Regions from separate parts of the Homo sapiens genome. Here region 2 is linked to region 1. The links come from fine-mapping of genetic effects on gene expression. A gene starts in region 1. The other region holds a variant in brackets. All regions are shown on one strand. Distances are between the middles of the regions.

Region 1 (5,374 bases):
ACTTGAACCCAGGAGGCAGAGATTGCAGTGAGCTGAGATCACGCCACTGCACTCCAGCCTGGGCAATGGAGCAAGACTCTGTCTCAAAGGAAAAAAAAAAAAAAAGTTTGTCATCTCAGTTCACCCAAGCTGGAGTTTGGTGGTGCAATCACAGCTCACTGCAACCTCAAACTCCTGGGCTCAAGTGATCCTCCCACCTCATCCTCCCCAGTAGCTGCAACTACAGGTGCGCAGCAGCACGCTCTGCTAATTTGAGATGTGTCGTCTTCCTCTAGGGACAGCAGGACTGGCCTTCCCTTGGGACCCCACAGAAGGCAGGCAGGAGGCTCCACTGCCAGACAGGAAGCAGAGCCTTATTTAACAACAATGAGCTGCAAACTCCACCACTTCAAAAGATGCTGCTCCTAGAGGAAGACGCTAGAGATGGGCTCTCACTATGTTGCCCAGGATGGTCTCAAACTCTTGGGCTCAAGTAATCCTCCTGCCTCAGCCTCCTTAAGTGCTGAGATTACAGGTGTGAGCCACTGGGCCCAGCCTCTCATACCAATTTCTAGTTCCCTCTCACTTTGATGACAGGGTTTTAAATTTAGTCTTACACTCATGCTTCTGCACCTTTACTCTGAGGCTCATCTTTACCATTGTCATCTGTGCCATGGCCCTAGGAATCTGCATTCATATCCATTTTCTCACTGATGAGATTCTGACTACTGAGCTTGAGTAGTGGGCACCAGAGTCAGCCAGAGCCCCCTGGAGAGTACTCCCAGGTTATCACGTAGGAAGCAGAGAGGCGGAGTGTGTTTTCTGGGGCATGAAACAGTGACTCAAATGCAGGGACCCCTTTGCCTGGCCCACTGGCCCTCAACCTTCAGGCAAATGTACAGACACTCTTCATTTTTATCTTTTAAAGCACTTTCCATTACACTAACCTCCAGAAGCAACTCTGCTTACCAAGGCAGAAGGAAAGAGAGCCACTGTCCAAATTAGATATTAGAATTCAAGCTTTTAAACATTAATGCTTGGGGAGTAGTTCTATGGTGCTTCTGACTGTTTTTACAATGGAGTGTGTAATCCAGCAGAGCTGTTAAGCTTTCTGAAGATGTCAGTCTGTTCTGACTTCTAGGAAGGCAGCTGTGGAGTGAACAGGCTGCGTTTATAGACGTGCCAGATCTGGACTCTTTTGAAGTGGTGGAGTTTGCACCTCATTGTTGTTAAATAAGGCTCCGCTTCCTGTCTGGCAGTGGAGCCTCCCGCCTGCCTTCTGTGGGGTCCCAAGGGAAGGCCAGTCCTGCTATCCCTAGAGGAAGACGGCACAGATCATGCCTTCCTTAAAACCGCAAAGCTGGTGGGGAGAACAAGTGAGGAAAGTCCATGAACACAATGGGGACACCTGCACCTTGGTTGCTTGAAAAAAACCCAGAGAGGGGCCCATTTTACCAGGAGAGAGGAGGAAGGGTGTCTCTTGTGTGGTCACAAAGAGCCAATGAGGTTTGTTGAAGATGATAAATATGATGGAGCTGGATTTTTTTTTCTTTTCTTTTTTTAAAATAAAGGCCATAATCTAGAAGGAGCACTTCTATTTTCAGCCTTGAAGAACTTAAAAAAAAAAATCTTAGTATGCTTACTGTAATCATTAACACAATATTACTTGGAAACTTACATGTATAGAATAAAGCAAGATTTTCAATGTATGAGAAAACATAGAAAAATTAACGCAGTTAAGAAAAATCCAAATAAATAGAACTGAAAGTTAAGGTGCAAAATGTGTCTGTGTGTACTTATGCTGAGTACTTTTCCCTTTATTTTTTTAATGTTTTTAAATTTTAAACTTAATTCTGTGTGTGTGTGTGTGTGTGTGTGTGTGTGTGTGTGTGTGTGTGAGAGAGAGAGATAGGGTCTCACTCCATTGCTCAGGCTGGAGTGCAGTGGTGTAATCTCTGCTCACTGCAACCTCCACTTGCCGGGCTCAAGTGATCCTCCCACCTCAGCCTCCCCAGAAGCTAGGGCTACAAGCACGCCCCACCACATCCAGCTAATTTTTGTTTTGTTTCGTTTTTTGATACAAGGTCTGGCTCTATCGCTCAGGCTGGAGTGCAGTGGCACTATCTTGGCTCACTGCAAACTCCACCTCCTGGGCTCAAGCGATCCTCCCACCTCAGCCTGCCGAGTAGCTTGGATCACAGGCCTGGGCCACCACACCGGGCTAATGTTTGTATTTTTAATAGAGGTGGGGTTTCGCCATGTTGCCCACGCTGGTCTCCAACTCTTGAGCTCAAGCGATCTGCCTGCCTCGGCCTCCCAAGGTGCTGGGATTACAGGTGTGAGCTACTGCTCTTTCTTTAACATTGATCTGTTTGTTTCATTCATTAATTGTAAACGAAAATCCTGCCTCTGTGGGATTATATCCATGAATGAGAGAGGCCATAAAAAAAAGCACTAATTGGACAACCATCTCTACTTAGGAAAAAAGCAGTTACAGGGATCAGTCACAGTTTATGAACATGTTCTGGCGCCTTAAAGGCATCAAAATCAGGATGTCAGAGTCCCAAATAGGAAAGATCTAGTCCACGAGGCCTGTTTCTCTAGAAGACCAGTAAAGATGGCAGGTTTGGCGCTCTAGGTGGCAGAGAAACCACCAGGAAGGCTTGGTGAATGGGGAGAAAGGTAACCTTCCCAACCTTTCTGCTTCTCCTTCCACTTCCCTCCTCCTCCTCCCTCTTCCTCTCCTCTCAGCCCTCCCTCTCTCTGTCCTCCTCCTCCGCCCGCCCAAGCATCACCTCGTGAGGCCTCGTGGCGTTAGCCCAGTGCTCTCGGCCCCCACCGAGCCTGGCTCTACTGCAGGCGCTGGGGGTTGGGGTGGGGGAGAGGCCCAGGGCACATGATGCCGCCCCCAGCCCGCCCAGCACATGACCCAGGCAGGCCGGCGGGGTCCTGGCACACCCGAGCCGCGTCCGCGAACACAGCCCATGGCCTCCCCGCGCCTAGGGACCTTCTGCTGCCCCACGCGGGACGCAGCCACGCAGCTCGTGCTGAGCTTCCAGCCGCGGGCCTTCCACGCGCTCTGCCTGGGCAGCGGCGGGCTCCGCTTGGCGCTGGGCCTTCTGCAGCTGCTGCCCGGCCGCCGGCCCGCGGGCCCCGGGTCCCCCGCGACGTCCCCGCCGGCCTCGGTCCGCATCCTGCGCGCTGCCGCTGCCTGCGACCTTCTCGGCTGCCTGGGTAAGGGCGCGCGCGGCCCGCGGGTTGGAATCTGATCAGCGCCTGGGTGAGGGCGCGTGGCCCGCAGGTTGAGACCCGACTGGTGCCCGGATAAGGGCGCACGGCCTGTGGATTTGGACCTGTTCCGTGATGGAGTGAGGACGAGAGGCCCGCGGGTTGGAACCTGCCCGGTGCAGGGCTGAGGGCGCGTAGCTGGCTGGTTGGGACCTGCTCGGTCCCCGGCTGAGGGCTTGAGGCCCGCGGGTTGGGACCTGCTCAGTGCTGGGGTGAGGGCGTGAGGCCCTGGGGTTGGGACCTGCTCAATCCCCGGGTGAGAGTGCGTGGCCCGCAGGTTGAGACCGGATCGATGCCCGGGTGAGGGCGCATGGCCCGCAGGTTGGAACTCGATCCACTCGGGTTGGAACTTGATCGGTGCCCGGGTGATGGCGCACGGCTAGCGGGTTGGGCTGGCCGTCTTAACACTTGAACCACAGAGAAAAGAGAAAGCGGAGGCTGTTCCCTAGGGACCGGATGGGACAACTAGGTAATTTTTTTTTTTTTTTTTGAGACGGAGTCTTGCTCTGTCGCCCAGACTGAAGTGCAGTGGCGCAATCTCGGCTCACTGCAACCTCCACCTCCCGGGTTCAAGGGATTCTCTTGCCTCAGCCTCCCGAGTAGCTGGGGGAGGCGCGCGCCACCATGCCCGACTAATTTTTGTATTTTTAGTAGAGACGGAGTTTCACCATGTTGGCCAGGCTGCTCTCGAACTCCTGACCTCAGGTAATCCACCCGCCTCGGCCTCCCAAAGTGCTGGGATTACAGGCGTAAGCCACCGCGCCCGGCCGACTAGGTAGTTTTGCAAACACATGGTCGGTAAAATTCCCATCCAAGGGACGTTGGGTTTTAAAAAATCCGTTTATTGTGTTTGTTATATGGAAACTTCAGATGGCGCAGTTAAGCAAAACCCAGACCAGAAAAGATTTCCTCATTTTTGCCCAACTGCACCAGGGAGAGACTAACAATTAACTTCTCTCTGTCTCGCTCTGTGTGTGTGTGTGTGTGTGTGTGTGTGTGTGTGTGTGTGCGCGTGTGTAAATTCTTTTCTATTGTGCACTATATATTCTCTCGAGTATTTTGTAAGCTGAAATCCCTTCCCTATCCAGGCTTTTTGGGTATGGTTTTTACACCACAGGTGCGCAAACTGCAGCCCTCAGACCAAATCCTGCCCGTTTTCTAGGGTCCACGAGCTAAGAATGGTTTTACATCCTACTTTTTAAAAAATTAATGATTTTGTTTTTTGAGACAGGGTCTCACCCTCTTGCCCAGGTTGAGTGCAGTGTCACAATCACAGCTCACTGCAGCCTCGACCTCCTGGGTTCAAGCGATCCTCCCACCTCAGCTACCCGAGTAGCTGGGACTACAGCCACACGCCACCATGCTAGGGTAAATATATGTGGGGTCTCACTATGTTGCCCAGGCTGGTCTCCAACTCCTGGGCTTAATTAAAAGATCACCACCCTTGGCATCGTAAAGTGTTAGGATTACAGGCGTGAGCCACCTCACCCAGCCCTAAAATGTTTTTAAAAATCAAAATTAAAAAATATTTCCTGGCATGTGACTATTACTGAAATTTAAATGTTAATGTCTACAAATAAAGTTTGATGGGAACGCAGCTATGTTGTTCATGTGCATTTGTGAATTATTCATGGCTGCCTTTACCCTACAAGGGCAGGGTGAATATTGGACTGAGAAAGTATGGCTCCCAAAGCCAAAAATATTAAGAATGAGTTTGCCAACATCTGCTTTAAACTATTATGTGACACTTTATACAGACCTCTCAGCTAGATTTGGCCATTCTGTTTAGCTTTTTGGAACATTTCCACCATGCGTAAATGCAGTCTATAATAGAAACACTTACAGTGAATCCCTGTACGTGGGATTCGTGAGGTACGGGTACCCGGCTCATCTGCTCCCCTCTTCACCCTCCTCACTGGATTAATGTGAAGCCAATCTCAGGCTCCATCATCCTGCCCATTCAGATCTCAGAGAGAGCCCTAAAACATAATAATTCTAAACATTTGCAACCCCAATATCATTATCACTTTATTTTTGAGACAGGGTCTCACTCTGTTGCCCAGGTTGGAGTGTGCTGGCATGATCATAGCTCACTGCAGCCTCGAAC
Region 2 (5,374 bases), 23 kb before region 1:
TTCTATTCTATTCTATTCTATTCTATTCTATTCTATTCTATTCTATTCTATTCTATTCTATTCTATTCTCGAGATGGAGTTTTGCTCCTGTTGCCCAGGGCAATGGCACGATCTCCAGCTCACCACAACCTCTGCCTCCCGGGAGCCTCCCGAGTAGCTGGAATTACAGGCATGCACCACCACACCCGGCTAATTTTTTTGTATTTTTAGTAGAGACAGGGTTTCTCCATGTTGGTCAGGCTGGTCCTGAACTCCCGACCTCAGGTGATTCACTCGCCTCGGCCTCCCAAAGTGCTGGGATTACAGGCGTGAGCCACCGTGCCTGGCACTGGTGATATTTTTTTAAAGGCCTAAAAGAGCAACAGGCAACCCAGAACTCTTTCAAAATCCTTCATGTGGGTTAAAGTTTTCGGCTTGCATGTGTAGGAAGAGGGCTTGCAGAAACCTGCAGAATTTATCCTTCATGAATTGCCCCACTGCTGACTACAGTGCTTGAAAGTAAAAGAAGACCTGAATAAAAAGTCCATTCAGCTTTTACATTCTAACATTATCGTGTAGAATGTTTCCGCTGCACCCGGTGTGCAAGAAGAAAAGTTCCACAGAGCCCCAGCTTTTCTCCACTGCCCTTAAGAACTTGGCCACAAATCCAGGTTTATTTGCATGCTGATACAAAACAACTCTGGCAAGGGGACAAACAACTCCAAAATGCTTTCCAAAGAGAAAAACCAGCCCTTCCCAAGTGGCAAGCCAGTTTTTTTGACCATGAATTACAAAGGTAGATTAAGAAACCCCCAGCTCATTAGGACAAGGTGAAAACTGCTACTTGTTCTGAGCCTTTCATTATCATACTATTCTACCTTTAGCTCTTGGGCAAACTAGTTTTCTTTTCTTTTTTTTTTTCAAAAGATAAATGTTACGACATGTTAAGAAATACTCATAACTGAGCCATGAAGACCGAACGCATCCTGGTACAGAAGTGAGATGCATAGCTTATGTTTACAGCTTCTCATAATCGCAGAAGGCTCTGGATTCATAGGCGTGAGTCAAGCTGAGTTAATGTCTAAGAGAGGAAGAATCCTCCCAGAGCTGACCCTCAAAGCCTCCAGCTCCCAGACCCTGGAATAGGACTTGAGGCTCACTGCCTGACTCCACACTCTTGCCCAAAACATCGCCGGAGAACAAGGATGAGAATTCAGCAGGGTCACATTAATTCACAGGCTGGGAAAAGGTAATAAAGATAGACTTGAAAGCCAGTTGGCAAGGCGGGCCTACCAACTGAAAGGGTCTTTCAGCACAGGAAAGAAAGCTCACCTCTTGGTTTTTAACCTTACTATTAATTCTTAAATACAGATGGATCTTTATAATGACACTTATCCTAATAGCTGAAGAAAACATGGTAGCTGGCATCAAAAAGTGAGTAAAGCTTTACAACTCGGACATCACTTAGAGATGGCAGAGGCAAGGGAGATCCAAGCCCTCACCCACTGGTTCTCAGACACCTGGAGAAGCAGCAGCACTCCCTCGTGCAGATGTTGACCGCACACTGCATCTGGGCACAAAAATCCACCAGCAGCCACAAAGTTGAGAGTCACCCGCTCCTGACCCACTGCTGAATTCATCAGGTCCCTCTTTTTCAAAACCTTTACTGATATTTCACAAAGAGCTTGGTTGGCTCTTGGGAGCCAATATAATGGCATATGAGACAAGAACTGATCCCGACCAGGGTGGTCACTCTGATCTCCCCGGTCCTCGGGTCACGAGGTGACTTGGCATGGCCCATAATGCAGAGCCCCCTTTCCAAACCAATAAGTAAGGTACATCAGAGGCGCGGGGCCTCCACTCCTGCCCATCACCAACCACCAGTCTCAGCCCTGTGCCCTCTGCAATCAAGGACTCAGCTAACACTTTACATAAGACACTTGCCACCTGGCTGCACGCCCCCCAAAATATGCCCTGATTCCGTCTTTGGCATTCACACTGGAAAGGACATTTCAAAGCTCTGTCTCCAATCCAGAGAAATGTTCTCAGAGTCTGAAGCCCTGGGGTGGGTGAGTCAGGTGGGGGG[GA/A]CCTCCAAGCGTCCCAGACCACAGCAGTCTTGTCGCACACAACAGCTCTGGTGCCCAATGGCAACCCGAAAATCAATGGGTTCCCAAAGGAGCTGCCCTTGGGGCTAGGCCAGGCCCAAGTTACTGTCTTCTTTGGAGCTTCGGGCTAAGGCTTCTGGCATTCTTTTTGGGGGAGGGAGCGGACTCTAAGAAATAGTGAACAGGAGAGGCTGGGGCTTCATTCCTTCCCTCCCTTAACAAACATTCCTGAGGCCACAGGGGGCTGCTGACACCCAGCTGGTGTATTTAACGCTTCCTCATGAATCCCCCAAACAGCTTTGTGGAATTCAAGCCACTCTAGTGACATTTTAGAAATCAGTCCCCTCCCCTCCCCCCACTGAAGACTTCCACTGGTTGAATGGATGGGAACAGAAACATGCAAAAAACCCACCAGGATCACATATATCCACCATCTCTACTTCCGTTACATAGATTCCTACAGCATGGATGTTATTCCTGCCCCCTCTCTAACAACAGCATGGAAATATGGGTTTGAGTGCATTTTTTCCACCAACTGTAGCAAAATTTCAAGGCAGAAATCAGCAGAAACGTACTGAGGAGTGATGAATCCTGTCGCCATCTGTCAGCGGAGGTTCTGCTGGGCTTCATGCATGCACCCCAAATTCCAAGAATGCTACTCCTCTGAAGTTGGTATCCCTTTAGCTTCAAACTAGACCCAGAGAGTAGTCAGTCCTGATTCTGAACAGCCACTGTGGATGCCCATAAAACACAGCACTTGGGAGTTCCTGCTTCAATTTCCTTTCTCCAGCTACAAAAAATGCAGATGAAGCAAGTATTTGTTTGAGTTTGACTATGTAAATAAAGCCTATTCTCAGGGCCAACGCGTGGGAGGAAAACAGCTCTCCATGCAAACACTGGCAATGCCAGAGGCCTCTAAACACACCACCCTAAAGGCCAGTCTATTCAAAAAGAAACAGAAGTTTTAAGAGCAAGAATCCTTTAAGAGCAAAGGTGATATATGGTTAATCTAACAAAAGAGATTCAAAACCAGGCTAATTTTGCCCCCAGAGGACATTTGGCAATGTCTGGAGACATTTTTGTCATCACACCTGGAGAGAGGTGACAGTAGCATCAAGCAGGTAGAGGCTGGGGAGGCTGCTGAGCATCCTCCAAAGCACAGGGCAGCCCCACAGCAAAGAGATTCAGCTCACAAAGTCCCCAATGCCAAGGCTGGCAAACCCTCACCTAACCGATGTGACGAAGGTATTCAATATGGCATTGCAGGAGATCCCAGACCCAAGCAGATGGCACTGACTGAAGGGGAGCAGCAGGCTTGAACACTGGGGCCAGAGTCTGATTCTTAGGGCCTTTCCCAGGACTCAACAGTTTGTGACCTCAGGATACACCATTTGCCCTGCCTGGGCCACAGCTGTTTCATCTATAAAATGGGCTGATAAAATTCCATCTGAAGACCAGGACCGAACCAGCCTTGTTCTTGACACCCCTCCCAGTTCTACTACACGCACTCCCATGAGGCTTTCAAATGATACCCTCATTATCATAAAGAGAAGGTGCGCTCTTACCTTAATGCAAGCTATCCCCAAATCAGAGTCTGCTAAATAGCAAGTGAGTTGTACAGTATTCCAGGGCTCTAATATGTAACTATTTAATTACAAGTGGAAAAAAAAAAACGATTAGAAGAGCTATTTTTTAATGAGCCCCAGTGACTTTTCAGTAGCTTTTGGGAGAGGAAGATTCAAAGCTTGGATTAATCCACATTCTGAGCCAAGCGCAGTGGCTCATGCCTGTAATGCCAGGACTTTGGGAGGCAGAGGAGTTCGAGACCAGCCTGGGCAAAATGGTGAAACTCCCCGTTTCTACAAAAAATTTTAAAAAATTAACCAGGCATGGTGGCGCACATCTGTGGTCCCAGCTACTCAGGAGGCTGACAGAACAAGACCCTGTCTCAAAAAAAAAAAAGAAGAAAGAAAGAAAGAAAAGAAAAGAAATAAAAGAAAAAAAAAAGAGGAGTGTTCTGGCTGGGCAGAGTATACACACTTTATGACTGTCCACCATGTTTCCAAAGAAGCCAGTGTGATAAAAGATTACACATTGGTCAAATTTATAACAATGGCAACCTCTTTCCTGAGTTCAACAAAAATTTAGTGCAAAGCTAAACAAGGCTTCTCCAAATCCCTCCACAAAGTTTTGTAATCATAAAAGCGACAGAAAATATAGAATGGAAGACGCTGGTGTCTCATTTGCTATTTGAACAACAAAGCCATCCCACTTCCCAAACTGATTACCAGTGCGGCGGGTTAGGAATCACTTAATTTCTTCCTGCTGTGGAGAGGCAGGAAAGCCGAGAAAACCAGTAAATTATCTTCAAACGCTTCTAGTCGCCAAGAATCTTTACATTTTAAAAGGAACTTCGTCCACACGAAAGGTCCGACTCAACCCTTCCCAGAGAAAATGACCACTACACACTTTTAACTAGAACACAGGGTGACTGGACTGTTGTTTATGTGTTTGCTTTTACAAGTTCATACAGGTTCAACTGGTAAGTTTCCAGATGGATTTTGTTTTGAGACAATAAAATTCAATGTTCTAAAGCAAACCACACACACACACACAACATTCCTGATGAGATACATCTGGAATTTCTTTATTATTATTAGAACTCGGGTCCTGCTCTTAGGAAGCAGGCTTTCAGGTTTCTCTAAGTTTGCGCAGGTATCCAGTGCGCAGTGGATCTGGGACTGGAAGCCGAAAGTCAGTAAACATTGATGGGCTGAAGGGAATCGAGAAGTTGCGCTGGCGACAGCTGCTACTCTGGATTTCGTAGTGATCACAGGCACGGGTCCAAGGGGTGCCGAACCAGGGACCCCAGAGAGGCAAACATAGGTGGGGACGGCTCGGGGACACGTTCCTTCGCTGGCCTCCAGGCAGCCCCGCAGGTGCAGGCCGCCACTGGCGGGCCCGGGAGCGCCAGAGGACCCGGCCAGGCCCCTGCCCGGAGGAGGGAGGGGGAGGGGAAAGGGACTCCGGGCAGGAGCCATTTAAACTCTGCGAGGCGCGGGGAACCGCCAGGATCACACGCCCACGCCGGTCCCGGCGCCCAGGCCCGGCAGGTGACCCCAGCAGACGCGCGCGCCAGACCCGGGGGCGCGAGCCTACCGCCCCTCCCGCGCCCCTACCTCGACGCGCCCCGCAGGGCGGCCAGCTCCCGGCTGTCAGCGCCCGCGCCCCGCGGCCGCCTTACCTTGGTGATGACCAGCGGCTCGCCGTGCTCGCGGCCGCCCTTCAGG

Which allele goes with the higher level. Positions count from the first base shown, and alleles are read on the strand shown. Sizes are in standard deviations (SD) of each study's normalised expression.
As copies of GA replace A in region 2, the expression in spinal cord of the gene that starts at base 2,934 in region 1 goes down (small effect, 0.32 SD a copy in GTEx).

What was found. PIP is the estimated chance that this variant, and not a neighbour inherited with it, causes the effect.
Region 2: its variant is the best candidate, but not a certain one, in a credible set for the expression of GPR143 in spinal cord (GTEx, PIP 0.69).

The regions. Positions count from the first base shown.
Region 1 is chrX:9,763,407-9,768,780 of GRCh38, reverse strand. GPR143 (G protein-coupled receptor 143) reads left to right here and starts at 2,934. Exons shown (of 9, transcript NM_000273.3): 1 at 2,934-3,213. The coding sequence starts at 2,964. RefSeq lists an enhancer at 3,527-4,028.
Region 2 is chrX:9,786,665-9,792,038 of GRCh38, reverse strand. SHROOM2 (shroom family member 2) reads right to left here. Exons shown (of 10, transcript NM_001649.4): 1 at 5,329-5,374. Among named protein-coding and RNA genes, the nearest start is that of SHROOM2, 2.9 kb to the right of the region's middle. The variant GA/A (reference allele first, on the strand shown) is at 2,066.